Regions from separate parts of the Homo sapiens genome. Here all the other regions are linked to region 2. The links come from fine-mapping of genetic effects on gene expression. A gene starts in region 2. Each other region holds a variant in brackets. All regions are shown on one strand. Distances are between the middles of the regions.

Region 1 (9,942 bases), 58 kb before region 2:
CCCATCTAGACTATAGGCATGTTGAAAGCAAGGATAGCATCTTCACAGCAAATAAATAATACAATGTTTGGAAACCACCTATCTGATGCTATCTACTTCTCTGACACATAGAAACAGGAGAAAAGATATAACCCATTAACAAAAGAGTCACCCAGAAATTCCAATCCCAAGAGCTTACCACCTAGAATTCCTTCTACATGTACACATAAATGTGAATAAGGGTAGAGTTTTTTCCATTATTACGTATAAGTGAAAAATTGGAAACAAAGTTTCCAGGTGGGAAAATGATGATACATCTGTACCTTCCAATCTTATGAAGCCTTAAAAAGAATGAATTAGAGGTCAACCATGGTGGCTCACACCTGTAATCCCAGTACTTTGGGAGGCCAAGGCGGGTGGATTGTTTGAGGTCAGGAGTTCAAGACCAGCCTGACCAACATGGTGAAACCCCGTCTCTACTAAAAATACAAAAATTAGCCGGATGTGGTGGCTGACGCCTGTAACTCGGAAGGTTGAGGCAGGAGGATCACTTGAACTCGGGAGACGGAGGTTGCAGTGAGCCAAGAATGGGCTGCTGCGCTCCAGCCTGGGCGACAGAGCGAGACTCCGTCTCAAAAAAAAAAAAAAAAAAAAGAAAAGAAAAGAAATAAATCTAAATGTGCTGAGATGGAATAGTATTCATAGTATCTTAAGTGAAAGATACAATTTGTATGACATTACATGTGTATAATCCATGTTTCTTTTAAAAATAGTCCCAAACTAGGCCAGGCACGGTGGCTCACGCCTGTAATCCCAGCACTTTGGGAGGCCGAGGCGGCTGGATCACGAGGTCAGGAGATCAAGACCATCCTAGCTAACACGGTGAAACCCCGTCTCTACTAAAAATACAAAAAAAAAAAAAAGTCCCAAACTATATGTTTATATATGTATAGTAATTGGAACTAGAAGGATTTACATGAAACTTAAGTGTTTTTTATGTTGCAGAGAGGACGGGACGGTGCCGGGATTTTTTTTCTATATACAATTTTGTTTTGTTTACATTTTTACAATGAACAATTATTTTGGTATTGGAAAAAAATTTTTGAGATGGAGTCTCACTCTGTTGCCCAAGCTGGGGTGCAGTGGTGCAATCTCGGCTCATTACAACCTCTACCTCCTGGGCTCAAGTGATTCTCCTGCGTTAGCCTCCAAAGTAGCTGGGATTACAGGTGCCCACCACCACACCCAGCTAATTTTTGTATTTTTAGTAGAGACGAGATTTCCCCATGTTGGCCAGGCTGGTCTTGAACTCCTGACCTCAAGTGATCCACCCACCTCGGCCTCCCAAGGTGATGGGATTACAGTCATGAGCCACTGCACCTGGCCTGAAAAAAAATTTTTAAGCAAGGTTAAAGATCACATATAAGAAAGGCAGGAGAGGCTAGCTAGGAAAACTGTCCTCCCTTGGGTTTCCCAGACTAGGACTAACCCTGCGATTCCCACCCCTTTGCGCAAGCAGTGGAGGAAGGGCTGGTTTTTTTCTCCCTGGTCCACTTCTGCTGTTTTTCACTCTGGGGGGCCACTCTTGCCCAGGGGCATGTGGTCCATCCAGCACTAGCACGGGCCTGTAACCACGCATGCATTTGCCATTCGATAAATCAAAGCAGGAAACAGTCCGCATCTTCTGAGCACCTTCCTATTTCTTGAGTCACAACTGATAAAACTCTCAGTCCTCAGCAGAGAACAAGGGAGGGAATGAAATGAAAACCAAAACCAGGAAGGACAAGCTTGCCCATCTCCAGCCTTCTGTTTTGCGGCCCAGCTGCCAGAACTCAGTGAGCAGAACAGAAGAGCCACAGACTTTCTGGTGAAGTTTCCTGCCCACACATGGGTTTGTGCTTGCATGTGTGTGCATGTGCGCGCACACGGTTGGAGAAACCAGCTCATCACATATTTATAAAGCCCCAATCTCAAGTGTGGACCTAATGCTTCCTAAATTCTCATCCCATGCCAAGAGATTCTTTTTTAGTTGTTTTCATGATTAAAAAGTAATACTTGGCCGGGCACAGTGGCTCATGCCTGTAATCGCAGCACTTTGGGAGGCCAAGGCAGGCAGATCACTTGAGGTCAGGAGTTTGAGACCAGCCTGGCCAACATGGTGAAACCCGGTCTCTACTAAAAATAGAAAAATTAGCCGGGTGTGGTGGCAGGCGCCTGTAATCCCAGCTGCTCAGGAGGCTGAGGCAGGAGAATTTCTTGAACCCAAGAGGCGGAAGTTGCAGTAAGCCAAGATCGCACCGTTGCACTCCAGCCTGGGCAATAGAGTGAGACTCCATCTCATAAAAATAATAACAATAATAAAAATGAATAAAAGTAATACCTACAGAGAAAATCAGTAGAGGGAGATACAAGAAACTGTTAACGGGGATCCCCTTATAGGAATGGAGGGAAGGACTCATGCTTTTCAATGGCACCCCTTCTGTATTTTTTTTTTTAACCACTTAGAAACATTATCTGTTAAAAATGAGAACCAAGGTCGGGCGCAGTGGCTCATGCCTGTAATGCCAGCACTCTGGGAGGCTGAAGCAGGTGAATCTCATGAGCTCAAGAGTTCAAGACCAGCCTGGGCACCATGGCAAAACCCTGTCTCTACCAAAAATACAAAAAATTAGCCAAGCGTGGTGGCACGCACCTGTCCCAGCTACTTGGGAGACTGAAATGGGAGGATCACTTAAGCCTGGGAGGCAGAGGTTACAGTGAGCTGAGATCGTGTCACTGCAGTCCAGCCAAGGTGACAGAGTGAGACTGCATCTCAAAAAAAAAAAAAAAAAGAGAACTGAGAAAACTAATATGTGCTCACTGAAAAAGTGGAAAAATTAGAAAGGTATAAAAAGAAATATTAAATCATCCATAAGCCCACCACCAAAAGAGAACCATTGCTATATGTCCTAGGTATCTGCATTTTTATAAATATCATTGTAATATACCGACACATGTATATAGGGTCGTATTTTAGATATGCTTCTGTATCCTCTTTCTACTAATTTAATATCCCATTTTTCCATATTGTTAAAATGATTTATAAACATTTTTAATGGATGTTCCATGATTTATTTAATAATTATCCTTCCCCTGTAATTAGACTTTTTTGTTCCAGTTTTTTTACTGTTATAGAAATACTGTGAACTTTTTTTTTTTCTTGAGATGGAGTTTCGCTCTTGTTGCCCAGGCTGGAATGCAATGGCATGATCTTAGCTCACTGCAACCTCCGCCTCCCAGGTTCAAGCGATTCTCCTGCCTCAGTCTCCTGAGTAGCTGGGATTACAGGCATGTGCCACCATGCCTGGCTAATTTTGTATTTTTAGTAGAGACGGGGTTTCTCTGTGTTGGTCAGGCTGGTCTCAAACTCCTGACCTCAGGTGATCTGCCTGCCTCGGCCTCCCAAAGTGTTGGGATTACAGGCGTGAGCCATGGCACCCGGCTTTTTTTTTTTTTTTGAAACAGGATCTCATTCTGTTGTCCAGGCTGGAGTGCAGTGGCGTAATCATGGCTCACTGCAACCTTGCACTCCTAGACTAAAGCAATCCTTCCACCTCAGCCTCCTGAGTAGCTAGAACTACAGACACGTGTGACTATGCTCAGCTAAGTTTTGTATTTTTTTGTAAAGATGGGGTCTCACTATATTGCCCAGGCTGGTCTCAAACTCCTGGACTCAAGCAATCCTCCTGCCTTGGCCTCCCAAAGTGCTGGTATTACAGGCATAAGCCACCATGCTCAGCCCTAAACATTTTTGATTATGCTTTTTTCTGTTTTTTTTAATTTGTTCCCTACTTAGATTGCAATTCTGTGAGTTGTGCACACAAAAAGTGGGTATCTTCACTTGCTATGATGCTTTATTGTTCCCAGAGTTCCTTCATCTACATTGTTTCATTGAATGAGTAAAAGGGAGTGGGGGTGTCAGGACCAGGAGGAGGATGAGGATAGAGGAGACAAGGTGCTGTGGGCAGGCAGAAAAGGAGGCCGTTGTACAGTGGAGCTGATGGGAGGAACTTCCTGGGTAGAGGCTGAGCCTTGCCTTTGAAGGACAAGCAGGATGTATGGGGTGGCCCACACAACAGCATGGCACACATGGGACCTGGAGAGTTGAGTAGCCAAGGGGTTGTAGAGAGATCAGACTGGCCAAAGCCAAACCCTATGTTTGGGGAAACAATGGCCAAAAAGATTATGGACCACAGAGCTGAGACTGAGCCCATAAGCAGTGCAGAGCCAGCAGATGTCTTTGAGCTTGAGGTTGTCTTAAGTACACGATGTTTCAAGATTAGCTCAGCGCCAGGGTGGGAGGTCAGAGAGAAGCTGGAAGTGGGTAAGACCAATGCCAATAGAATAGATGCGAGGGAATTGCCCTAAACATCTGAAGGGGCCTTATAGACAGTAGTTTCTGCACGGCTAGGGCCGGCCAGCCATCATCAGGCATGTGGTGGTAATTGCAGGACAGTCAGAAACTTTACCCCATAAATTGTATTTACCCTGCAGTTTGACCTGTGGGATTGGCAGCAAGACTGAGTTTTGTTTTTTTGAGATGGAGTCTCGCTCTGTTGCCCAGGCTGGAGTGCAGTGGCGCGATCTCGGCTCACTGCAACCTCCACCTCTAGGTTCAAGCAATTCTCTCATCTCAGCCTCCTGAGTAGCTGGGATTACAGGCACGCGCCACCATGCCTGGCTAATTTTTGTATTTTTAGTAGAGACAGGGTTTCACTATGTTGCCCAGGCTGGTCTTGAACTCCTGACCTCAACTGATCCACCTGCCTCGGCCTCCGAAAGTGCTGGGATTACAGGCGTGAGCCACCATGCCTGGCCGAGACTGAGTTTTTGAGGGCATGTCAGATTTGTTTCTTTTTAATAATTGATCTGTAAGATTTTAATGATTAATGTACCTTCACATTTCATATCCTCCTTAATGGGAAATGCTTATTCAGAAATTACTCTCCTGGGAAGCAGGCCTCAAGCAGGCCAATGAGTCCAGTTCTGAGGTTCCTCCAGCTGCGTTTCACTCACAGTGCCTGAGTGCAGGCCCCAGTAAGGCCCCTTCCTCCTTCCTCAGACATCTGTTTCTATGTCCCAGGGATCACATGGCCATTCTCCTTCTCCGCCTGAGGGAGAGAGTGAAGCAAGCCTTTCAGAAGCCTGTCACTTGTCAGATTGTTAGCCCAGGCCAGGGTGGGGGTTCTGTACCAATGGCAGGATTTTCTTTTCTTTTTTCTTTTTTTTTATTTTCATAAAGACACAGTCTTGTTATGTTATACATGCTGATCTCAAACTCCCAGGCTCAAGTGATCCTCTTGCCTCAGCCTCCCAAAATGCTGGGATTACAGGAATGAGGCACTGTGCCTGGCCAGTGCCATCTGCCCCTACTCTGCAGCTTCTGCCATCTGGAACTTTACCCCCAAGAGTCTGGGAGGAATGTGGAATTATACCCCGCTCACTCATCTGAGAATTTAAACCCTGGGGGTATATGAGGATCAAG[C/T]GTGTGTCCATGGTCTGATAGCTGAACTTCATCTGCAGCCTCCTCTCCTGGGACTGCCTGACTTACGCTTTACTCACTGACAACTTCAAGCTGCTGGTGATTGCTGCATTGACTCACCTCTGTGCCTTACCTTTTGCCATCCCCTCTACCCAGAACACCCTCTCCTTTTTCTTGGGCAGGTCTTGCTCACTGCTTCAGACTCAGCTCAGGCATCACCTCCTGGGCTGGACTAGGTGTCGCTCTGTGTTCCCGTCACATCTGCTGTGTGTCTATCTCTGTCATTGCATCCCTGTATTGTACTGAACTCTTCTGACTTCTTGTCTGTTTCCCCCAGTAGACTGTAAGATCCTCAAGGGACAGTGTCTTCTTCCTCAGTGTACTGCCAGCACTCAGCACGGGGCCCAACACCCAGCAGACCTAGTACATGCCCAGGAACTGCCACGCATAAGATCCTTGCTCTGCAGCTAGACAGGACACTCTGGGGCCAAGACCTTACTCAACATAAAGCCTCAGCCTGCCTCCAGTCATTGGATTTGGAGGCTCTTTATCGGGTGCCTAGAAGTGATTATATCTTTTTGTCTTAAGTATTTTGTCTGATACGAATATTACTTCTTTGTGGTTAATATTGGCCTGGCACATCTCTTTCTATGTCTTTATTTCCAACTTTTCTGGATAATTTTGTTTTGTTTCTTTTAGTCAGCATCTAGCTGGATCTTTTAAAATCCAATCTGGTTTGCTGTTTTGTAATCTACTCACATGTACTGTGGTTAATGACATGCTAATATTTTGCCTTATTTCTGCCATCTTGTGTTTTTATTTTATATTTATTGTCCTTTTTGCTTCTTTTTTCCTCCTTGCCTTGCCTTGTATCAGATTGACAGCATTTTCTATTTTTCCTCCTTTATTCTTCTGGTCTGAATTGTATTTCTATTATTTTAGTCATTACTCTTAAATCAACATACATACTAACTGTAATTTTTTCTAATAAAATTTAAAAGTTGTTGTACATAAAGTCCCCAAAAAGGCAAGGATCATGTTACTTTTTACCCATTGAACAACCCATTTCACCCATCTTCCTTATTGTTGGTGTCTAGATTTTCATGTTTTAAAACGATTTAAACTGGCCAGACATGGTGGCTCATGCCTGTAATCCCAGCACTTTAGGAGGCCAAGGCAGGCAGATCACCTGAGGTCAGGAGTTCGAGACCAGCCTGGCCAACATGGGGAAATCCCATCTCTACTAAAAATACAAAAATTAGCCAGATGTGGTGGCACATGCCTGTAATCCCAGCTACTCAGGAGGCTGAGGCAGGAGAATCACTTGAACCAGAATGCTGAGGTTGCAGTGAGCCAAGATTGTGCCACTGCACTCTAGCCTGGGCGACAGAGCAAGACTCCATCTCAAAAAAAAAAAAAAAAAAAAAGATTTAAACCAATTTCTCATATTCAACTGTTAATTAAATTGACCAACATATTGTTTGAGTTCCTGTGCCTACCATTGTTTCTTTTTCCTATTTACTTTTTTCTTTGCAAAGTACATCCTTCAGTGGTTCTTTCAGTGAAGGCAGTGCCACCTTACCTAGAACTCCTGTTTGTGTATGTGTGTATTAGATGTGCATTTGTTTGATTGTTTCAAGAAAATGAAACGACCTGTTAAAACCATCAAGTTAAGTCATAACACATAACATAACAGGATTTAGTGGCGTAACTGAACTAAAAGTCTGACAAATTGATGGCTGATTCAGCCCTGACTTGACAAGACCCCTCATCAGTAAGGGATCTTCGTCTGCTTCCTGTCTACCTGGGCTAAGGAATTATTACCAACAGTAGATGGGCAGATGCTAGGGGTAGTAATATCCACATGGGTAGTAATACTGCTCAGTTCCTGGATGTTCTAGATGCCTCTGCCAACCAGATTTTATTCTAGGAAGGAACTAGAGATCCTTGGGTCCTAAGAGAATGGGCCAAGAGTGTCCTGGCTTGAGCCCTAACTCCATGTTGGATGCTCTAACTGTATAAATTGAGCCTCATTTATTCCTGTAGGTAATGTACCTCTCTAAGCCTTAATTTCTTCATCTGTAAAATTGGAGATAATATTGCCAACCTTGCAGGGTTGGTGTGGAATGCATTAACAAGGCAGATAGAGTTCCTGGCACAGTGCCCCATACACAGAAGACATTTATGGACGGTAGTGGCTATTACATTCCCTGGCACTTGGGAGACACTCATTGAATGTTTATAGGGTGGATGCAGAAGCCTACCATAAAAGGCTTCATTGAGTAGATAGGCCTTAAAGGATAGGTGAGATCTGGGCAGACATTGATAAGGGAGGAAGGCAAGCAGCCACTCCCTATGGGAGGAACAGGGTGGGCAGAAGAAGAGAATCAGAGGCTTGCCCAGTGCTGCCCTGCTCGGGCAAGTGAAGGAATCAGTCTGGAACAAACTGGGGGAAGGGCTGTAGGAAGGGCAGAAAGGGTAGAAAGGGGAGTCAGGATGAGCATGTATGGGGACTTCTGAGTCTGCCTCGCCAGATGGCTGTTTTGCCAGGCCAGCTTGCTCTGCCTGATACTTGCCCTTGGTTCCCTCTTTTTTTTTCCCCTCCTTTTCTTTCTTTCTTTATTTTTCCTTTTGAGATGGGGTCTTGCTCTGTTGCCCAGACTGGAGTGCGGTGGTGCAGTCATGGCTCACTGCAGGCTCAAGCAACCCTCCTGCTTCAGGCTCCCAAGTAGCTAGGACTACAGGCGTGTGCCACCATGCCTGGCTAATTTTTTAATTTTTTGTAGAGATGAAGTCTCACTATGTTGTCCAGGCTGGTGTCAAACTGCTGGTCTCAAGTGATCCTCCTGCCTTGGCCTCCCAAAGTGCTGAGATTACAGGCGTGAGCCACCGCACCCAGCCCAGCCCCGCACTTTGAGTAGGCAGAGGTTTGCCTATTGTGGCCTGGTGGCCAGGCAAGCTGAAGACTTAAAAGAGGAAGTTGGGAGAAGATTGGTTTTCAACCAATATCTTATTAAGGAAGTTGAGTCATTCTACTTCTGCTATTTATCCCCTCTGGGCATTCAGAGAAGGACAAGTTTTTACTTCCAGATGAAATAGTCATGAGAGGGATTTGCCTTGGCCCCTTGTAGACATTTTCAAGCTGGCCCTGTAAGACAGAGTTTTATTTCCCTTTCGTGTATGGAGAATCAAGGCTCCAAGCATTGCATGAACTAGGTAAGGCTCAAGATACCTTGGCTATATGGTGCTGAAACAGAGAAGTCCCATCTTCTCAGTGATGGCTTTTAGTAGCCTGGTGACAGACAAGGGAATGAACATTCATTTAGCCTCTTCTGTTGGCCAGGCAACCTGATTGGCATTTCATGTACTCGTCTTCATTCGGTCTTCAAAACAGCTCTGAAGGAGCTAAGAGAAGAAACTCAGAGAAGTTAAAAGAAGTGGCTAGCTCAAGGTTTAGATGTCGGCTTAGGAGGCAGCAGTCTAGGTTCAACCCCACCTCTGCAACCTGCAACTGCGTAACTTTTGGTGTGCTACTACACTTCCCTAAGCCATATCTTCATGTCTGAAAATGAGATGACAGTAGGTACTTTGTAAGTATCGACAGTTAGTATTCTGAGTTGGAGTTGTCCAGCCCTCAAAGAATCCTGACAGATGGGCTACATTCTCAGAACTAGAAGGAACCTCAAAAGATTTCCTAGGCCGCTGGTTTCCAAACTCTTTTCTTGGAGAACTAGGGATTTTGTAGAGGTCCTCGGTGGATGAAGGGACACTGAGCATGTGGAGCTCCTTCAGCCAGGGCAGCGGGTTCAAATGTGAGTTACATGCCAGTTGCATGCATCTGGTTCTTTTAGTTATTGGGAGATGAGGTATGATTTCATTTGACAAAAATGGTCCCACTGCTCTTCTTAAAAAAAAAAAAATTGTTAAGGCTAGAACCCATAGCTTCTGGTTCCCAGTCTGGAATTTTTACTATGTTGTACTTGCTAAAACAGGGAACTGAATGAAATATGATATATTCTAAAAAGGTTATCATCTGTGAAGATTAACATTTAAAACATTGTTTTTGTATCTTCCAGTGAATCAAAAATTTGTTTACTGTAAACCCCATTCCTGCCCCAGAATCCTAGGAACAGAAATTTTACTGTCAGAGAAAACACCGCTCTCATCACCTCAGAACAGCACTGTCCAATAGAACTTTCTGCAATGCTGGACATGTTCTCTGTCTGCACTGTTGAGTATGGTAGCTAGTGTAACAAGGAAATGATTTTAAAATTTTACCTCATTTTAATTAAATGTAAATAGCCACATGTTGCTAGTGGCTACCATTTTGGACAGTGTCGCCTTGAGTACAGAGCAGGGGTCAGGTGGCAGTCTCTGGCCCTTTGGCATCAGAATCATCCAGAGAACTTGTCAAAAGTACAGATTCTGGGCCTAATGCCCAG
Region 2 (9,942 bases):
TGTAGGGCTGGTTCCGCAGATCTGGCAGCCGAAGGAGACACATTTACCATTCAGGAGTCCGCCCAGAGCTGGGAGCATGGCTCCAGGGCACAAAGCTTAGCCTCCTAAGGACTCAGATTGTGTGCACATGGCAGGGGTACCGTTTATGTTTGCCAGACCCCTCCACCCCACAAATCACATCCCAGCCATCCACTGGCCCAGGAGAAGGCAGCATGCCTCAGTTCTCCCAAGGGTCCCAGGGGCTGTGGGCAGCGTGGTATCAGAGGCCAGGTCATCTGGGTACCTGAGGGGCTAGAGGGGCATCTCTTCTCCCAGGCTGGCCTCACAGAGGAGCCGGGATGTCCGCTTGCCGGTGCGGGCCGTGAAGGGCACCGTCTTGATCACTGAGTGGGGGTGGGGCAGGTGAAGGGGAGTAGAGAAAGGAAAAAGGAAAGAAAAACAGAAAAGGTAGCAAGAAGCAGTGTGGCAGCCAGTCCCCCAGAGGATAGCGCATTGGGTCAGAAGAAAGCATAGAAGGACAGACTGAGGATAAGACCAAGGCCTGGCCAAGCCCTTACCTGTGATGATGTCTTCAATGGCCCCATCACGGTCGCTCTCATAAATGAGTGGCTCCTTCTGCTGCCTCCGTTTCAGCTCAGAGATGAGGTCCATCTGTGGCCGCCGGGCCTTTGGCGGTGACTAGGGGGAATTTATAGCTCCAGCTCCAGGATGCCTCCCCATCACCAAAACCCTGGAATATCTGCCTGGTCCCCCACAGCAAGGACAGCTGGCTTGAGCAGAAAGAACCCTTTCCCATCCCAGGCTCCTGGGGCAGGGTCAGTCTGTAACAGTGAGGGTGTGGGGGTGGCACCAGAGGGTGATGAGATGCCATGCATCCCTGCAGCCCAGTACCAAGCCCAGGAGCAGTTGCCTACCTTGGGTGCTGGGGGCTCCCCTTTGCCCGGGGTATCAGCGCCTGCCTCCTGGGCAGCGGCTTCTTTTTTCCACTGTTCCACCTCCTGCTCAGCTTTCTGTGGGCCAAGGCAGTCTCCATGAGGGTGGCCCTCCCTACTGCCCTACCCACCCCCTAAACAGAAGCAGCCCCACCCCTCCGCTGCCCAGTAGAAAGGCTTCAGTGCCCTACAGGGCTCCCAGCCTGCCCCAGACCCGAATACCTTGTAGGCCTTAATGAAGCGGCTAAAGAGGGAGAAGAACAGGCCTGGGGATGTGGTCTTGGGGTTCTCTCCGAAGTACTCCACCACAGACTCAAAGGCCTCCTGTGGGCACAGCCTGTCAGCCCCCCAGCTTAGACCTCTCACAGCCTGTACCCCTCAGGACACTGGCCACCTGATCTGAGCTCCTCCCAGGCAGGGTGGCCCCTCATTCCTGCTGCATCCCCCCAAGGGGTCCCAGCTACGGCCACACCCCTCCAGGCTGTGCTATCTAGTGCTCCTACATGCCCCACCTCCAGGTGAGGCCAGCCCTGGCGCACCTGAGCCGTCTTGCTGTCTGCCAGCAGCTTGTCCATGGTGGGCGAGTTGGCCCTCAGGAACTCCTTGAGCACCATGCAGTCATCCTGCCGCACAAACTCTCTCTGTGTCAACTCTAGGCCTCGCTGCAGGGAGCGCACGTCCGCCAGGACACTGTCCAGGGACACTGGGCCAGGGATGGGGCAGTATCAGGTCAGTGAATCGGAGAGGCAGCCCTCCCACCAATTATATACTGTGGCCCCCTAGCTTTCTCCCAACCTACCCCAGCCCACGGCCCCTCCCCACACCCAAGGATCTGTGTGTCTCCTACCTGAGCCCGCCTTGTCCAGGAAGTGCAGGTCGCTGTGGAAGCCTGTGAGTTGCGGGTACTTCTCAGCAATGACCTTCACCAGGTAGTGCAGCAGCGTCTGCTTGCGATCAGTCGACTTCATCTCCAACAGCTGCACAAGGACCCATTGTAAGCCACAGGCCACCAGCCAGTCCCCAGCCCCAGTCCCCAAGCCAGGGGCCCCTCCTCACCGCATCCAGGCTCTGGAGCCGGAAGCCATAGGCTGCCCCACGCTTGCTACTGTTCATGTAGTTGCCAAAGGCCAGGACAATCTGGGAGAGGCAGGAGAAAGGCTCAGCAGAATGCCAGAGCTGAGGACACCGCTTAAGCATATTGCACAAGGAGGAGAAGAGGTGGCAAGGAGCAGGCCCCACACACTCAGCCCCTACTGTACTCCTGCACAGGCCCCTCAGATCCACAGCACATGTACATGTGTGTACACACAGGTCTCACACATGTGCACGGTTAACACCATGGGCACACCAAATTTTGTCCTCTGCTAGTCCAACCCACAACTTGTTGCCAGCATCCCCTCCTAGTCTGTGTGGTCACTGCCTGTCCACCAGCCATTTCTACTGGTTCCCGGGCCCTCCACTGAGCAGGTGAGGTTGCTCACAGAGCAACGCTAAAGGGGACTGAGCCCTCCGGCAGGGTCCCAGGTGAGCTGCTACAGACACGGCTGCTGTACCCCTTCCCACTCGCCACCACCCTTAGATTTGTCCTTCTCAGCATGTACATGAGAAGTGGGAATGTTATCTTTGTTGCATTGCAGGTGAGCAGGGCCTGGGTCTCCCTCTCACACTATCCAGAACAGGCAAGGGTGGGCCCCACCTCCTGGCCCCTCACCTCCAGGATCTGGCGGAGTTTGTCAGAGGACTTGATGGACATTGAGGCTGCAATGATGGCATTCAGTTGCTGGGGGTGGGATGGGGGAGGTAAGATAAGTTGGAGCCTCCTCCATCTGGAGGCTCAAGTACTCCCAGGTTCCCTGCCGCAGCCCAGGCTGGGAGTTGCCTCCTGCCCATCCCCTCCCAAGTCACACCGCCCTGCCCGCTCCGCCCACACCGGCATGAGCAGCTGGGCTGTGTCCGGGAAGTTGCCCAGGAAGGTGAGTGTGGTCATGCGCTCCGGCAGGCGCGGGATGCGGCTGAAGCATAGCATGAAGCGGTCCTCCTCTGACAGCTCCTCCATTGGCCGCTGCTCCCGCTCAAAGCGGGTGATGAGGCTGCGCTCATACTCTGTGGGCAGGAAGCGCATCAGCAGCTCCAGGAAGTCCAGGCCCAGAGCCTGCAGGTCGTACCTGTGAGAGGGAGGAGAGGGGAGATTGGGCATCATCCATACCCACCAGTCCCTGGGAGCAGGGCTACCCCTGCCTTGATTGAATAAATGAATTTCAGTATTTTCTATTTGCCAACAGCTTCAGAGAGCAAGAGGTAGGAATCCAGAGAAACTGGGAACTGGGAATCCAGAGAAACTGGGAACTGGGCAGCCAGGGTCCCCATCGTACGTCAGCGGCGGACGCCCGGCTGTAAATCCCACAGCCTGGGTGCTCACAGCTAGGCAAAGAGGCAGGGAGGAAGTGGGACATCCTAATTTAGGCATGGACTGAGTTTTCTCCACCTTAAAATGGGGACAAGTTTCCTGGACCAGGGTTGGTATGAAGCCTGATGAAAGAGCTCACCATTGAGGCTCTTTTACTAGGATCTGCCTGACAACCCCAGCCTAGCAAAGGGGCCGGACTGCCCACAAACCCAGGACAGGGACACTCACGCCTCAATGGCTTGGCAGATGCGCTCGGCCCCCAGGTTGCCCTTCCGCAGGGTGATGGCCAAGTTCTTGGCCCGGTTGGCCTCAATGAGTGTCGCCTTGCTGGGGGCCTTCTGGGCTGCCTTACTCTTGAGAGCGCTGAGGTCCAGGCTGGGGCCTTGGGACTTGGTCTTGAACTGTTCCTCAAAATCACTCATGTCTAGCTCCTGAAGGTACAGGGTGAGGAGGCGGAGCTGGGTGGGGCTGGGGTCTGGCACTCTCCTGGCTGAGCACAGTGCTAGAGCCATCCATCTGGCCCTGACCAGGCCACCAGCAGAGAACCAGTAACCCAGCCTGACCACAGGCCCTGATGGGAGGCACAGGGGAAGCACAGGGAGCCTGGAGGAGGAGGGCCGCCTAACCCGGGGGATCCAGACTTGGGGCCACAAGAGCTAAAGGAAGAGCTGAACTGGCCAGCGGTAAAAAGGAGAAAGGAAAAGACATTCCAGGCAGAGGAAACAGAATGGAACAATGGCCTAGAGGCAAGAGAATACATCCTTTTGGAAAACTGGAAGTGGAATCAGGAGGGCTGAAGCCTTGGCTGCCTGTGGGAAAGTGGAAGGAAAGAGGCCTGGAGGCAGAAGAAGTGGGGTGAGGGGAGGCACCCCTCTGCAGGGATGGAGGGGAAGGCGTTTGGGAAAGCAGGATTCTGCCTGTTAGAGGTATTGGTCCAGTCTGGCTTAATGCCCATCCCTGGGCCTCCCCCTCCTCATCTGTGAAATGGCTTGGAGAAAATGACTACCCCCAGGGCCCAGCCTGATCCAGGCAACTCCCCTCTTCCTCCGGTGCCCACATGGGGAGCCAGGCAGGGCCACTCACCTGCAGCACCTTCTCATCATTGAGCTCTGTGAAGACAGTGCCGGTGATCTGGCTGGGTTTCAGTGCCACCCAGTTCAAGAGTGGCATTCGGAACTTAGTCTGGATGGGCTTCTTGGCCTTCACTCCTGGGACGGGGGTTTGGGGGCAGTGGTGAGCACTGGGGGTACTACTGGAGGGAACCTGGGCCCAGGGAGGGCTGATGGGGCAGCCAGGAGGCAGCAGGAGGCCCCCAGGCAGAGGACCCTGGAGGACACTGAGGCCCAGGCCCCTCCCTCCATCTCCCCCCAGCCCCGGGCCCAAGGTGGTCCACTCCACTCACCTGGGCCCAATTCTGAGTCGCGTCTTCCTAGGGCATCAGGAGGACCTCCGGGAGGCGGCGGCGGCGGCGGCGGCGGCGGAGGCACCGGCCCGTCAGTGCCCGGAGGTGGTGGCGGTGGCGGGGGTGGGGGCGGCAGGTCTCCGGGCAGCGGCGGCGCAGGCGGGGGCTCCGGGCTGCCAGGGAGAGGCGGGGCCTGTGGGGGCGCAGAGGGCGGGGCTTCCTGCGGGGAGGGGAGGCCGGGCAGTGGGGGCGGCGGCGGTGGCGCTGCTCCGGGAGCCGGCTCTGCTGCAGGTGCGAGATCTGAGCCAGCGAGGGCGCGGCGTGGGGGAGGCGCGAGTCAGCTCCTTGACTTGGGTGGGCCCCTCTCCGCCTCTCCGCTCTACGCATGCGCTCCTACCTGAGCCGAGCCTACAATCCAAACCTCCCTCGCCCAACTCTGCCCGCCACAGATGCCCCTGGGCTCCCCTCCAGACCCTGCCCCGCATCCCCGCCAGCCTGAAGCTCCTGCGCACCTGGGCTGGGGGAGCCGGTCGGCACCCCCGGAGTCGGAGCATCACCGCCGCTCGGAGTTGCCACAGCGACGGGGAGGATCTCGATGGAGACAGCATCCCCCGGCCCCCGCAGAATACGGATTAACCCCTTCTCCTCCAGCTCCTCCACCTTCAGCTCCAGGGCCGAGGGCCGCGTCGGGGCAGCGGGAGGCGCTTTCTCAGGCTCTGGGGGACGCCTGGAGGGCCCCATGGCGGTCGATTCGCTGAAGCGCTCCTACGAACCCCACGGGAGGGGTCAGTGCCCACCAGCAGGCTCCTTGGCACCAAGCCTCCATCTTCTTCCCGGGGTGGAGGGAGATGTCAAGCCTAGAAGCCTCAGCTGGCCTGTTCTTGGGCGCCTGGCCTACCACCCGCCCCAGCCTCACCCGCAGGGTCTCCAACTCCTTGCGCGCCTGGCTTAGCTGTTTTTCCAGTTCTGCAATCTTGGCCATGGATTCGTTCTCCGCGTCCCGAAGCCGCTCTGTCAGCTGTAGCACCAGCACATGGTGAGCCCCGACCCGCAGCCCGGCACTGGCACCGCCGGTGAGGGGGCGGCATCAGGCATGCCTGCCTGGAAGACTGGGGGAGGCTCCCAGATCCGCTCAGCCCAGGTGCCAAGGGTGGGCCGAGCCTGGCACTCGAACCCAAGCAAATAAGGAGAGGAAACCAAGGTACCAGTGATGCGGGAGGTGGAGGGAGAGGAGGAGACTGAGCTGGGAGGGGCCCCAGGCACCCATTTCAGTTCACCTGGGGTCTGAGCCTGGGTAGAGGAGGGGCCTGTCAGTGAGGGTGCTCACCCACACTCATTGAGAAAGACACCCAACAGATTCAGGCTTTGGATTCAGGCCAGGCTCTGGGGCCAGGCAGGCAGCACCTCCAATGCACAATTATAACACTGTCTGCTGCCCAGTGCCCATGCTTGCGTGGCCCTGTGGCCCGTGTGCCCTGTGGGCCTATGATGTGCTGGGCTGGGGTCAGGACCCACTCTCACCAGCGCCACTTGCTCCTGCAGTTCCTCCATGTGCTCCAGCACAGCGTTCTTGGTCTCTGTGTCCTCCAGCAGCGCCCCCACATCAAAAATATTGTCCAGGTACGCCTGGATCTGCACCTGCAGCTTGTCACTCTCGGTGAGCCGAAGCCTCTGTCCCCCAGATGGAAGGAGTGGGGTGAGGCCTGGTGTGTGTGTGGGGGGGAGTCTTTCCAAACCACCCCCCTGCCACCACTGCCATCCAGAGGAAGGGGCCTGAGCCCTAGCCTACTTTTTCTTTATTTTTTAATATATAATTCACAAATCATAAAATCCATTTTAAAGTGTACAATTCAGTCATTCTTAGTATAGCCACAAGGTTGTGCAACCATCACCATTATCTAATTCCAGAACATTGTCATCAGCCCAAAAAGAAACCCCACAGGCGTCAGCAGTCACTTGCCATTCTCTCCTCCCCCAGTCCCTGGCAACCACTAATCTACTTTCCATCTTTATGGATTTACCCATTCTGGACATTTCATATAAAGCAATCATAGATAGCTGGGCGAGGTGGCTCATGCCTGTAATCCCAGCACTGTGGGAGGCTGAGGCAGACGGATCACCTAAGGTCAGGAGTTCAAGACCAACCTGGCCAACGTGGTGAAACCCCCGTCTCTACCAAAAATACAAAAATTAACCGAGTGTGGTGGTGGGCACCTATAATCCCAACTACTGGGGAGGCTGGAAAATCACTTGAACCCGGGAGGCAGAGGTTGCAGTGAGCCAAGATCGTGTCACTGCACTCTAGCCTGGGCAACAGAGCAAGACTCCATCTCAAAAAAAAAGCAATCATAGAGTACGTGACCTTTTGTGTCTGGCTTCTTTCACTTAGCATGTTTTCAAGGCTCACCCATGTTGTACCATGTGTCAATACTTCATTCCTTCTTGTGGCTGAATAATACTCCATTGCACAGATAGACCCCCCCGCCAGCCTGCTCTCTACCTTTTGTTAATCCTGGCTTTCAAAAATCCAACCCCGAAAGCCCCGCTCCTCCAGGAAACCTCCCAAAGGAAGCAGAGAAGGAGCTGCAGCTTCTCTGCTCAGCCTGGGCCAGGAAGCACCAAGCAGCTCTGCCCACCTTCCCCAGGGCAGGGAACTCCTCCATGTCCTGGGCCCATCCAGCATGAGCCAACTCCTGCTTCTACCCTGTATCTCTGGGTTCCCCATTATATGCTGGAGTCAGAGCACCTGTCTGAGGCTGGTGCTCCCAGAGCCAGACTCTGGGCTACCTTGACCTGTTCTGGTGCCTGCAAAAACAGTTCCATAGACTGGGGGCCTGGTATGTGCCAGGCACTGGTCTATGCATTTAGAGTCAAGATTATCTTCTATGATTCTCCTATTTCACAGATGGCAAAACTGACACTGAGAGAGAGGAAGAGGCCTATCCAAGGTCACACGGCAGGCAACGGCAGAGCCAGGATTTAAACCCAGGTCTACCTGACCCCAGCACTCATGCTGCTAACCACTCAGCCATACTCTGCCGTGGGCAGGCAGTTCAGTCTGGGGGGCAGTACAGGGCTTACCTCCAAGTACAGGTCCAGGCCCAAGTGGGTGAACTCATATTGCAGGAAGACACGGAAGTTCATGTTCTCCACCGAATGTACCACAATGTTGATGAACTGCATGCAGGCCACCTGGGAGCCAGGGACATGGGGAGATCTATGATCCTCTAGGTGGGGTTGCTCAATGCCTTCCACCTCCACTTACCCCAAGCCTCCCTCCTTCTCCACAGTTCTCACTCCACTAACTCCCAGCCTTGGCCTGCCCAACATTTCACCTCCATGTTCCCTCAATCCAGCCCCCTGCCAACATCCACCCTTCCCCTACTGACCACTCAGTCCTTACGCTTTGCGGGGGCAGAGCCCATTGCCCAGCACCCAGGACCCTAGCTGCTCCCTGCACCCAAGAGGGCCTGGCCCAGGCCTCAGGCTGCTGGGCTCCTGAGCTCACCATGAAGTCGATGTTGCTGTCCTCATTCCGGAAATATTCCATCAGCTTTTCAAAGCGGTGCTGCTCCCCACACACCTGGGTAAGGGGAATGGCTCTCACTGAGGCCCAGTGACACACGTCCTAAGCTACCTTCTGGCTGCCACACCTGTGCTTCAACAGGCTCCTCTCCAGTTAATTCTAAGTTGAGCCACGTCACTCTTCTGCTCAAAACCTCCACTCCCTCTCAATCTCCCACTCTCCCTCACTTTTTCCACTCTGGCCACACTGGCATCCTGGCACATTCCCACCCCAGGGCCTTTGCACTTACTGTTCCAACTCCCTGGAGTGCCCTCACTCCCACACCAAGTCCCTTGCTTCCTTCACAGCTTTGCTGAAATCTCACTTGCTCAGTGAGGCCTTCCCTGACCACCCTGCAACCAATTCCCCCTCCCTCTGCAACATTGCTGGCTTTTTTCTCACAGCATTTATCATTTCCTAACATACTATGTAATTTGCTTGTTTATTATATCGTTTCTGTCTTTCCCTATATGGTTTCCTTTGTTCACTGATGTGCCCAAGTGCCCTGTTCCTGACACATAGTAGGCACTCAATAAATATTCATTAAAGGAATGAATGAATGAAGATATCTTGTCTTATGCATCTTATGCAGCCCCACACATCTACTTCTTGCAAGCCTGTTAGCCAGAGTCCGCAACTCCTGGAGGTATGAACCAAGGCTAGTTTGGATCTGGCAAGGCTGAGTCAGAGGTTCAGCAGGTCCCTGTAGTTGTCCCTACCCCCACCCAGGTGGTGCCCTTACCTGACCCTGTACCTTCCATTCAGAACTTCCCCATCCCAGATTGCTGAGCCAGTGATGTGGCTCAACTTCAACTTTTGGGCGTTCCCCAAATGCCCACCCAATGTCCCCAGCTGCCTCCAGCAAAGGCCACAACTGCCAACAACAAGACTCCAAGCAACACCATAGGGGGAAATGCATGTTTGGGTGAGGGACTCCGGTACCTCCTTGAAGTTGTCAAAGGCTGCAAGGATGATGTCATGTCCTCCCCGCACCAAGCACACGGCCGCCAGCAGCTCCAGCACCAGAGCCTTGGTTCTGGAGAGAGAAGGGGCAGGTTGTCCCTTGAGAACAGGCAGGACCCGCGGCAAGGGTGGGCACAGGCCTGGCTAGGAGGAGCATAGTGGGTGCAGAATGAGCCTCTGAGACCTGGAGGACAGAGTAAGCAAGGGGCTAAGTAGGAGAAGACTCTAGATACGGAGAAAGGTTTGGGGCCTGGACCTCACCTGGGGTTCTTGTTGTTGAGGCTCAGAGCAATCTCATTGACACAGGCTGGGTGGTTCATGACAAGGCTGAAGCCAGACTGGGGAGAGAGGAGAGGTCAGTGTCTCCAGGAAGGGCCCCCCAGGACTTCAGGCACCCACGCCACGTGGATCTTTAACTGCCCTCGAGTTTAGGAAGTTCTTTGTATCCAACCGCAACTTCTGTGGCCACCAAAACCTGGCCTTGTTTCTATTTTTTTTTTCAAGATGGAGTTTCCCTCTGTCACCCAGGCTGGAGCGCAGTGGCGCCATCTCAGCTCACCGCAGTCTCTGCCTCCCGGGTTCAAGTGATTCTCCTGACTCAGCTTCCCATGTAGCTGGGATTACAGGCACCTGCCACCACACTCAACTGATTTTTTTTGTATTTTTTTCAGTA
Region 3 (9,942 bases), 47 kb before region 2:
AGAAAGAACCAACAGTGTCTGTGCATCAGGCCTCAAAGAATATGGAGTGAATTCTGCTCCTTTCCTTTCCTCTTCTGATTTCTTGGGCTTATGGGTGAGCCATGTGGGTTTGGCTGTTGCCACTGCTCGTGTCCTCAACTCTTATGCAGAGAGTAGAGGGCCCAATGCCTTTGGGGCGTGAATAAGCTGAGGAGAGTGTCTAGGCTGAGGAATGAATCAGGAGTTTGACTTGCCTTCAAAGGCAGAGACATAACTGGCTCCCACTTCGTCCTCCCCACACGCTGCAGGAGGGAGAAGGGGCAAAGTGTTAGGGCCATGAGCTGGGGTGACAGCCAGAGACCAAAGTCCAGGGCTGGGAAGGCCCCCTGGCCAGTAGTCCTGGACTTAGTACAGAACCATGATTTTTGTAGACCAGAGTCCAGATAGAATTAGGAAAGGAGGGAGGGAGCAAGTGCATCCGTATGTGTGTGTGTCTGTGTGTGCATGTGTGTGTGTGCATGTGTGTCTGTGTGGGAGGTGGTGTTTGGGGAGAGCCACTGTCAGGCCAAAGTGTCCCAAGAATAGCCTCTTGAACTTGGAGGCTGTCGGTGAGGGTCTGAGTCATGGTGATGTGGCACAGAAAAGCCAGCCACAGGAGGAGCTTTACAGCTCCCAGGCCGTGATTTGTGCCCCTGAGAGGTGAGGGTCAGCCTGTTTTCCCCATGTCCTTCACAAGTTCAGCTGCCATCTGCTGGGTCAGCTTCTCAACAGCCTCCTTGTTACTGTCTGCCTGCCAGGCTGTTGGATGAGTCATCGGGGAACTGCAAAGGAGTCTCTGAGCGTGGCTGCCTCAGCCTCAGCTTCCACTTCTCTGGGAAGAGGGGAGCCTGGTGTGCTCACAGAGGGGCGCTGGACAGCTGCCTACCTAACACCAATATGAAAGGACAACTCTGGGACTCGGGATGCCCTGCACCCCCTCTGGAGGAGTTCTAGCTCAGGATGACCTATCCAGAAGCCTCCGTTGGGCCATGCCAGGCGGAGACAGGCTATCAGAGCCCCCACACAGCCAGATCTCTAATAGCCACGTGCCCCTCAGAGCAGCAACTGCACCACCTGGCCTCATTTTTCTCATTCATCAGGCAGGACTCTCTCTTCCTCCTCAGCATTCGGGATCATCCTGTCTCCAAAGGTTATGGAAAAGCAATCTTTGTCCTTTGAGTCCCTCGTTCAGCCAGCGTCAGTTGCGTGGTCTGTGGCCCCTGTGCTATACACTGGGGAGGCACTGTGTGCAGGGCCCCACCTCTTCCCTCAGGAGCCTGTTGACCAGGGAGGACCTTAGTGTGCCCTCCTGCATTTGCCTGTAACCCAGGAGCTTGGGGAGTGGGCATCATAGCCTAAAGAACCTAGGGTCTGGATCCTGGCCATGTCCTGTCACACGTGGGTTGGGTGACCTTGGGCAAGTCTCCACTGAATTAGGCCTCAGCTTCTTCAAATAGAAATGAGGAGGTCACGCTCACATCGAGCTCCCTGTGAGCATTCCCTACTGCTGTTAGGTTTGGAGACTTTTTGGTCTGTTCTTAAGATCTCATTTCCCCTGGTAAAGAGGCTGAGAACAGTGGGATCGGCTCTGGGCTTAGGTCAGTTTCTTTTTTGGAGGTAGAGTGGGGTGGGGAGGTGTGAGGTGGGATGAAAGTACAGTTACAAGAAGCATAGCCAGCCTTGAAGGGCTTTTGCCTAATTGGATGTCAGAACACCCCTTAGACTTTTTTTTTCTTTTAGAGACAGGGTCTTATTCTGTCACTCAGGCTGGAGAATGCAATGGTGCAATCTCAGCTCACTGCAGCCTCAACCTCCTGGGCTCAAGCATTCCTCCCACCGCAGCCTCTAGAGTAGCTGGGACTACAGGCCAGCTACCCCAGCTAATTTTTTGTATTTTTTTGTAGAGACAGGGTTCCACCATGTTGCCCAGGCTGATCTTGAACTCCTGGGCTCAAGTAATCCTTCTGCCTCAGCCTCCCAAAGTGGTGGGATTACAGGCATGGGCCACCATGTCCGGCCCCCTCAGACTTCTTAAGATCCTCAGGTAACAGTGAGGCCACCCATTCAGCCTCCTCAGCATCTGGCGTTTGGTACCAAATCCAGGCATCCTTGCAGGAAGCTGGAGCTGCTCCAAGTTCAGAGCTAGGAGACCCTTAAAGACAGAGATGCAAGGAACTAATCAATAGTGAACAACAAACCCCACCACACCCGCCAGCCAAGCTGGCAGAGCCTTTCATAGCCATCGAGGTGGGAAGACCAGTGAGGCAGATTCAGAAGGAGGAATGCTTCAACCTAGTACCTCAGCTTCCCACCATCTCATTCAGTCCTCAGGCCTCACAGGGCAAAAGGCCAGAGGCCTTAGAGTTCAGCTTCAGATGGTGTACCTGTCTGCCCCAGAAGCAGAGAAGTGATCCAGGGTTCACAGAGTTATAGCAAGGAAGATGATTTCTGCTGGTAGCAGCTTTAAGACAAACCTACCATCAGAGAGCAGTTATTAAAAATCTGTCTGCATTTGGGACCTTCTCAGGCTGTTTCTAAAGCAAGTCATGCCTGAGAGGGGCCCTGCCCTTTAAAAACTCCCAGCCTTTAAAAAGGTTTCCAAATGGTAACAGTCTCAAATCAGTGCTCTTCTCTTTTTTGCCAATTCCAGTCTGCAGGCTGTTTGCACAGATTGTTGGCAACTCTGGGTTGCTCTTCTTTGCAGCTTCCTAGGGCTGGGCAAGACAGAACCCAGAGAGACGTGAATTCTTATGCTTTATTCTTTATTTCTAGAGGTATAGGTTCGTGTTAGGGCCTTGAATATAAATTCTACTCCTGATGTTGCCTGAATGAAAAATGATACCTAGAAGTTTTCAGCCAATGAGTTTGGACATTAGAGGAGGAAGCATGTTAGTTCCTTCTGGAGAGCCACAAACAGACGCATTGGGCAAGGAACCACGTGCTGAGCACCATTTGCATGCTGAGTTTTAGACTTTGTAGGACACACACACACACACACACACACAGATATCTACCTCCTACTAGGGAACAGAATAGAACCTTGCTTCTCTCCACTTGGAGAAAAGTCGCTGTGGATGGTGTGTGCCAACAGGTCCTCTCCAAAGGCTTATGTGGGGTCAGTGAGGCCATGGTTTTGGAGTCTGGGATTCACCACCCTGTCCTGGGGAAACAAAGTTTGCCATAAAACAACAGAAAAAGATCGAGCCATCATAAAGGCAAGAAAGAGCCAACCCAGACATTTGTGCCACAGCTCTCCTAGAGGGAGTGGGCTGGCATCCTTGCTGGACACAGTGAAGGAGGCTGTTTATGTTGTGGTACTGGGAGGACCGGGGGACTGTGCCGTGTGGAACGTGTAGCTGTTGAGAGGTGGACTCTGTTACCATTGAGGATGTTTGGAGGATGAGTATGTGTGGCAGAGGCACACATAAACAGGCAGAGACCCTTTGCCCCTGCCTTTCTCCCCCAACCCAAGGCTGACCTGTGTTCTCCCAGGTCTGGGATTCTAAGTGACCTGCTCTGTGTTTGGTCTCTCTCAGGATGAGCACAAGCCTGGGAGATGGCAGTGATGGAAATGGCCTGCCCAGGTGCCCCTGGCTCAGCAGTGGGGCAGCAGAAGGAACTCCCCAAAGCCAAGGAGAAGACGCCGCCACTGGGGAAGAAACAGAGCTCCGTCTACAAGCTTGAGGCCGTGGAGAAGAGCCCTGTGTTCTGCGGAAAGTGGGAGATCCTGAATGACGTGATTACCAAGGGCACAGCCAAGGAAGGCTCCGAGGCAGGGCCAGCTGCCATCTCTATCATCGCCCAGGCTGAGTGTAGGGGCCTAGGGTTGTTGTGGGCACGGGGCAGGTGGGTGGGCCTGCAGGTGGGTAGCTGGGCCCAGGGGTTCCCTATGGAGGAGAGAGGTCTGTGTCACTGCTAGATAAGATTCTCATGAGACACAACCAGAGGTCTGTGCCGAGAATCATGGAAAGTGGGGTTGTAAAAGTGCACAGATGGTGGATGTGGCAAGGGGAGACTGTGCCCATCGTGACTGGAGCAGGGGAAGAGAGGTAACAGACGAGCACTCGGGACTCTGCAGAATCATCAAGCAGGCCATCAACCTTCTGCTGTGACCTTGAGCAGCCCCAGTGTCTGGAGAGGCTCCAGACAGGAAAGGCCAGGTCTCCTGGAAAGCCCCACTGGGGCCTGTAGGGCCTTCACCATCTTCCACCTAGAGGTGGCCCCACCCCCAGGAATGAGCACC[G/A]TGCTCTTGAGCCTGCTGGGCCAGTCCTGGGGCGGCAGGCTGCTGCAGGGTGAGACCTAGTCTGGTCCTTTCTTCTTCTACTCATGATACCTTATGATGACTAGTAATGGTGGCTTCCCTTGGAGACAGAAACTCCCACGAGGCCTGGGTAGGGCCGGGAGTCCTCTCTCTCCAACGCCTTCCCTCAACCCGGGAGGCTTCTTGGGGTGGAACCTGGAGAGCTGGACAGCCATGCTGTCATTTCTCCACACGCATACATCCTGCCCTCGTCTCCCACTTCCTCCTGGTTGGTTTTTGAGGAGAGATGAGAGAATAAAAACTAAAATACAGAGAGTGACATAATAATTGTTTTAAAAAAATACACATATATCCACACTTATATGTACACACATATATAAATACCTAATAGCTGTTTTTCCTATGAGCCAGGCACTGTGTTGAGCATTTTCTGTAGATCATCTCACTTCAGCTTCATAGGAAGTGAGGCGGGCGCCCTGTGATCCCCATAATATAGGCTTGGCTATTTCAGAGCAGGTGGCTGAGGCCGTGGTCTGCTCTTGACCAGTAAGCTGAGAAGCTGGGGAGAGACAGTGCGGGAAGGAGGCATTGGTGGGGAGGTGACTGCCAGACAGGGGTTGTCTGGAAAGGAGGGGAAGGAGAGGCGCCAGAGGGGATCTCTGTAAAATGTCTCTCCCCTAAGTGCTAAATTCCTATTTTTTCTCCTCTCTGCTAATCCAACTCCTTTTGCTTTAGGTGAGAATAGCCAAGAGTTCAGCCCCACCTTTTCAGAACGCATTTTCATCGCTGGGTCCAAACAGTACAGGTAAGCAGGGGAGACAAGCCTGAGTGGGAAGGTGGGGACTGGACCCAGCGCCCTCGTCCCCAGCACTTGCCTGGGCCGCTCCTGCTGACCCCGGGCTCCCTCCCTCAGCACCTGTGGTTCAGCTCCTGGAACTCACCCAGGCTTTCCTGGCTGAGCCGCTCTCTCAGCCAAATAAGCTTTTCAAAGGCTTTTCACAGCTTGTGGCTGACTGCCTCTGGGCCACATCAACTTGACATTTTATTTTTATTCTCCTCAGAGTCCTTAATGCACCCCCTCGTTTCCCATCAACAGGGAGGGTGCTGGGAACAGAAGCTGCTTCCCACTCTTGCGTGACCGTGAGCGCAGGCCGGGTTGGTGGGGGGGGCCTTCCACTGTCCTCTATGGGAGAAACCTGCTGGTGCCTTTTCTCCTGGGAGATGCACCGAGTAGGGATGCGGGCGGTAGAAAAGGAGGGGACAGATAGACTTGGTGGCCCGGTAGAAAGGAAGCCAGGGTGGGGCTGAGTCTGTTCCCAGGCTCTGCATTCCCCCACAGATGATTTTTTGAAACAAGAGTTCAAGTGCTGGGCACAATGGCTCTCACCTATAATCCCAGCACTTTCTGAGGCCGAGGCAGGTGGATCACGAGGTCAGGAGATCGAGACCATCCTGGCCAACATGGTGAAACCCCGTCTCTGCTAAAAATACAAAAATTCCCTGGGCATGGTAGCGCATGCCTGTAACCTCAGCTACTCAGGAGGCTGAGGCAGGAGAATCGCTTGAATCCAGGAGTCGAAGGTTGCAGTGAGCCGAGATTGTGCCACTGCACTCCAGCCTGGTGACAGAGTAAGATTCTGTCTCAAAAAAAAAAAAAAAAACAAGAGTTCAAGCTAGAAACAGCTCCTTCCCCTATCACCAGGCAGGTTTTGTATCATTGGAGTTTGGAACCTGCTAGTGATAAGATTGTGGGGAGGGCAGCTGGCTGCCTTGGAACCAAGAAATGCTCAGTTTGGTGGGATTCCTTCTGCTGTCCTGGGTGCCTTTTGGCCCAGGGTAGGAGCCTCTGATAGACACACTTCTTTCAGCTGTCCAAGAGAAGCCTGTAGGCCTCCAGTGGTCCCCAGGACTGCCATGAGTCTGCCTTCTCCATGGGGGCAGAAGATGAGGCCAAGGGAGGGTGGCTGAGGCCATGATCTGCTCCACAGCTGTTCTGCAGCAACCCATCTGTTGCCGGGTCCTTTAATACTTGGCAGGGATCCCAGTCCAGTTAGAGCCATGGCAGTGATGAGCCCCGAGGCCAGCAGAGAAGGGCAGGCTCCCCAGTACCAGGCAGCAGCCCAGGCTGTTCACCTTCAACAGCAGCCAGGGACCCCCAGGAACTGTGAGAATGGAGGTGACCAGCCTTACCTGTTCCTCCATCCGGAGGCAACAGAAACAAGCTCTGCTCAGTCAGAGCTGAGAGGCCTGCCATGAGCGTGGCCCCCTCCTAGGAACTCTCCAGGGGCAGCTCACCTTGGAGAGCAGTGAGCGAACCGTGTCTGCTCCCCTGACTCTCCCCAAGAAGTGCTGAGTCTGTACCCCATCACCATAGTAACAAGCACAGCTTCTCGGCAGCTTGCCTTGGGGCCAGACACTGAGCTGGGCTTTTTAAATGAACTAAATTATTGAAACTTCATTTCCACCCTGTATGGCAGAAAATACCAAACCCATTTTATAAGTGAGATAAGTGAGAAAACAGGTTCCTTGGGATTTAGAAACCTTGCCGCATTCACACAAGGAATGGCAACCTGGGATTTGACCTTGGATCTGCAGGAGTCCAGATACAAGTGTCTGGACCAGTCCATCTTCCTGCTTCCTCGTGCTCAATATGCAAATCTGTCCCTTTTGTGACAGCCAGTCCGAGAGTCTTGATCAGATCCCCAACAATGTGGCCCATGCTACAGAGGGCAAAATGGCCCGTGTGTGTTGGAAGGGAAAGCGTCGCAGCAAAGCCCGGAAGAAACGGAAGAAGAAGAGCTCAAAGTCCCTGGCTCATGCAGGAGTGGCCTTGGCCAAACCCCTCCCCAGGACCCCTGAGCAGGAGAGCTGCACCATCCCAGTGCAGGTGAGACCCTCCACCCACTGCCCAGACCCCAGGTTCATGGGGCCTTGAAATTGGAGCCTGTCCCTGGGCCCTGGCCCTCTGTGCTGATAGCTGTGTTTCCCCCCGCAGGAGGATGAGTCTCCACTCGGCGCCCCATATGTTAGAAACACCCCGCAGTTCACCAAGCCTCTGAAGGAACCAGGCCTTGGGCAACTCTGTTTTAAGCAGCTTGGCGAGGGCCTACGGCCGGCTCTGCCTCGATCAGAACTCCACAAACTGATCAGCCCCTTGCAATGTCTGAACCACGTGTGGAAACTGCACCACCCCCAGGACGGAGGCCCCCTGCCCCTGCCCACGCACCCCTTCCCCTATAGCAGACTGCCTCATCCCTTCCCATTCCACCCTCTCCAGCCCTGGAAACCTCACCCTCTGGAGTCCTTCCTGGGCAAACTGGCCTGTGTAGACAGCCAGAAACCCTTGCCTGACCCACACCTGAGCAAACTGGCCTGTGTAGACAGTCCAAAGCCCCTGCCTGGCCCACACCTGGAGCCCAGCTGCCTGTCTCGTGGTGCCCATGAGAAGTTTTCTGTGGAGGAATACCTAGTGCATGCTCTGCAAGGCAGCGTGAGCTCAGGCCAGGCCCACAGCCTGACCAGCCTGGCCAAGACCTGGGCAGCAAGGGGCTCCAGATCCCGGGAGCCCAGCCCCAAAACTGAGGACAACGAGGGTGTCCTGCTCACTGAGGTAACTAATCCCCCGGCACCTGTATATGTCCCTCTACCAGCAACCTGGGGGATGCTTTTCTCTCTTTATCAGAGTCACTCTTGCCTGTGGTGACAAATCAAACAGTAGGACAGTGCTCATTGTGGATGAAAAGTATCATCTCTTATTCCGCCAATCTCACTTCTCACAGCCTTTTTAGCGTCTTCTGTTCTGAGTTCTTCTGGTTGGTCACCTCCTGCTTGCTGAATGTGGGCACTGCATTAATAGTACACATGCTGAGGACAAGGGGAATCAGCCAGGAGCCACTGGAGATGTTATCATGGCCCCCAGAGACGGAAGATGAGGATGGGACCTGTTTTCACCACCCACCTCCTTCCCTTTTTCCTCTTGTTAACTTCCCAAATAATTTTATAACTTTAAATGATTTTATCAAACTTTGATTTCCGGGTTTTATTCCATCCATCCACTTTTTTTTTTTTTTTTTAATAAATGTGTTTTTTGAGACAGAGTCTCACTCTGTCACCCAGGCTGGAGTGCAGTCGTACAATCATAGCTCACTACAGCCTCCGTCTCCTGGGTTCAAGCAATCCTCCTGCCTCAGCCCCCCGAGTAGCTGGGACTACAAGCGTGTACCACCACGCCCAGCTATATTTTTTTTAATAGAGATGAGGTCTTGCTATGTTGCCCAGGCTGGTCTCAAACTCCTGGGCTAAAGCAATCCTCACACATTGGCCTCCAAAAGTGCTCGGATTATAGGTGTGAGCCACTGCACTGTCTTATTCCATCCACTTTTTAATTTTTTAATTTTTTTGTTTTGTTTTGTTTTGAGACAGAGTCTTACTCTGTCGCCCAGGCTGGAGTGTAGTGGCACTATAACAGCTCACTGCAACCTCCCCCTTCCAAGTTCAAGTGATTCTCCCACCTCAGCCTCCCGAGTAGCTGAGACTACAGGTGTGCACTACCATGCCTGGCTAATTTTGTGTTTTTTGGTAGAGACAGGGTTTCACCATGTTGGCCAGGGTGGTCTCAAACTCCTGACCTCAAGTGATCTGCCCACCTTGGCCTCCCAAAGTGCTGGGATTACAGGCGTGAGCCACCATGCCTGGCCCCTCCATCCACTTTTAACATCATCCTTGACCCCCGCCCCTCTTCACTGTTCCTCCCTTCCCTCCACCTTCTAGCTCCTGAGTTTTGTTTTTTCATTGTCAAGGTGATTGGCAGTTCTGTTTCTGTCTCACCATCACAAGTCTGGGATGTTTTTCATCACAAGGATCAGTGGCCGCAGCCCATGAACCCTTCCCTCGCCTTCACTTCATTCCTCTGCCCCCTCTCTGGTGCTGCCCGGCTCAGATCCCTGCCTTCGCCCCAGGGCTGCCTGGTTGTGAGGGCTCAGCTCAGCAGCCCTGGCAAGGTCACCAGCTGGAGAGTCTTCCTCACTGTAGCCCTGTAGCCCTCTGCTGCCCTGGCCACTGAAACTGTCCTCTCTCTCCTGCCAACCCCAGAAACTCAAGCCAGTGGATTATGAGTACCGAGAAGAAGTCCACTGGGCCACGCACCAGCTCCGCCTGGGCAGAGGCTCCTTCGGAGAGGTGCACAGGATGGAGGACAAGCAGACTGGCTTCCAGTGCGCTGTCAAAAAGGTACGCCAGGGCTCAGGGGCTGAGTGAAGAGGGAAGCCAGGAAGGGGGCCTGGTGTGTTCCCTCTGCTTTCTGTCCAGGACAGTCGCAGGGTGGCCGTGGGTCTGACTTGTGAACAGAACTTGGCTATCACTAGCCACCTGAGGTCGGCTGGAACTGGAAGGGAGCAGCCTGTCACGTGTCCTGGCCTGGCTGCTGCCCCTGGCATGTGTGTATGTGAGAGGCAGTGTGAGAGGACACACGTGGCCTCGGTGTCTCAATACAGCCAGGGCCTGAGGGGCAAGTCCCAACGTGGAAGATGGTTGGAGCGTCATGAAATTCACACTGAGGTAAAACCCCTGAACCACATAGGAGGCCGCCCCTGACCTGGGCCAGATGATAGGAAAGCAGTAGCCTCCACCTGTGGGGTGCTTCTAGGAGGAAGCCAGCCTCAGTG

Evidence for each region. PIP is the estimated chance that this variant, and not a neighbour inherited with it, causes the effect.
Region 1: its variant is fine-mapped to the expression of FMNL1-AS1 in whole blood (TOPMed, PIP 0.97).
Region 3: its variant is fine-mapped to the expression of FMNL1-AS1 in whole blood (INTERVAL, PIP 0.96).

Annotation. Positions count from the first base shown.
Region 1 is chr17:45,294,702-45,304,643 of GRCh38, reverse strand. All of the region lies in intron 1 of MAP3K14 (mitogen-activated protein kinase kinase kinase 14), which reads left to right. Among named protein-coding and RNA genes, the nearest start is that of MAP3K14, 17 kb to the left of the region's middle. RefSeq lists enhancers at 1,666-1,715, 5,456-5,605, 8,898-8,957 and a silencer at 4,636-4,685. The variant C/T (reference allele first, on the strand shown) is at 5,504.
Region 2 is chr17:45,236,946-45,246,887 of GRCh38, reverse strand. It overlaps FMNL1-AS1 (FMNL1 antisense RNA 1), which reads left to right and starts at 5,118. Exons shown (of 3, transcript NR_186808.1): 1 at 5,118-5,777; 2 at 6,284-6,398; 3 at 7,647-8,870. It overlaps FMNL1 (formin like 1), which reads right to left. Exons shown (of 27, transcript NM_005892.4): 8 at 9,531-9,607; 9 at 9,249-9,342; 10 at 8,250-8,324; 11 at 7,823-7,933; 12 at 6,263-6,412; 13 at 5,658-5,759; 14 at 5,254-5,506; 15 at 4,742-5,041; 16 at 4,423-4,547; 17 at 3,568-3,770; 18 at 2,863-3,097; 19 at 2,644-2,712; 20 at 1,989-2,069; 21 at 1,780-1,909; 6 more. The coding sequence ends at 292. It also overlaps the pseudogene EFCAB15P. RefSeq lists a silencer at 1,240-1,410 and an enhancer at 5,008-5,726.
Region 3 is chr17:45,284,378-45,294,319 of GRCh38, reverse strand. MAP3K14 (mitogen-activated protein kinase kinase kinase 14) reads left to right here. Exons shown (of 16, transcript NM_003954.5): 2 at 3,555-3,830; 3 at 5,015-5,084; 4 at 6,956-7,166; 5 at 7,275-7,889; 6 at 9,371-9,508. The coding sequence starts at 3,575. Among named protein-coding and RNA genes, the nearest start is that of SPATA32, 27 kb to the right of the region's middle. RefSeq lists silencers at 543-837, 3,646-3,849 and an enhancer at 543-837. The variant G/A (reference allele first, on the strand shown) is at 4,262.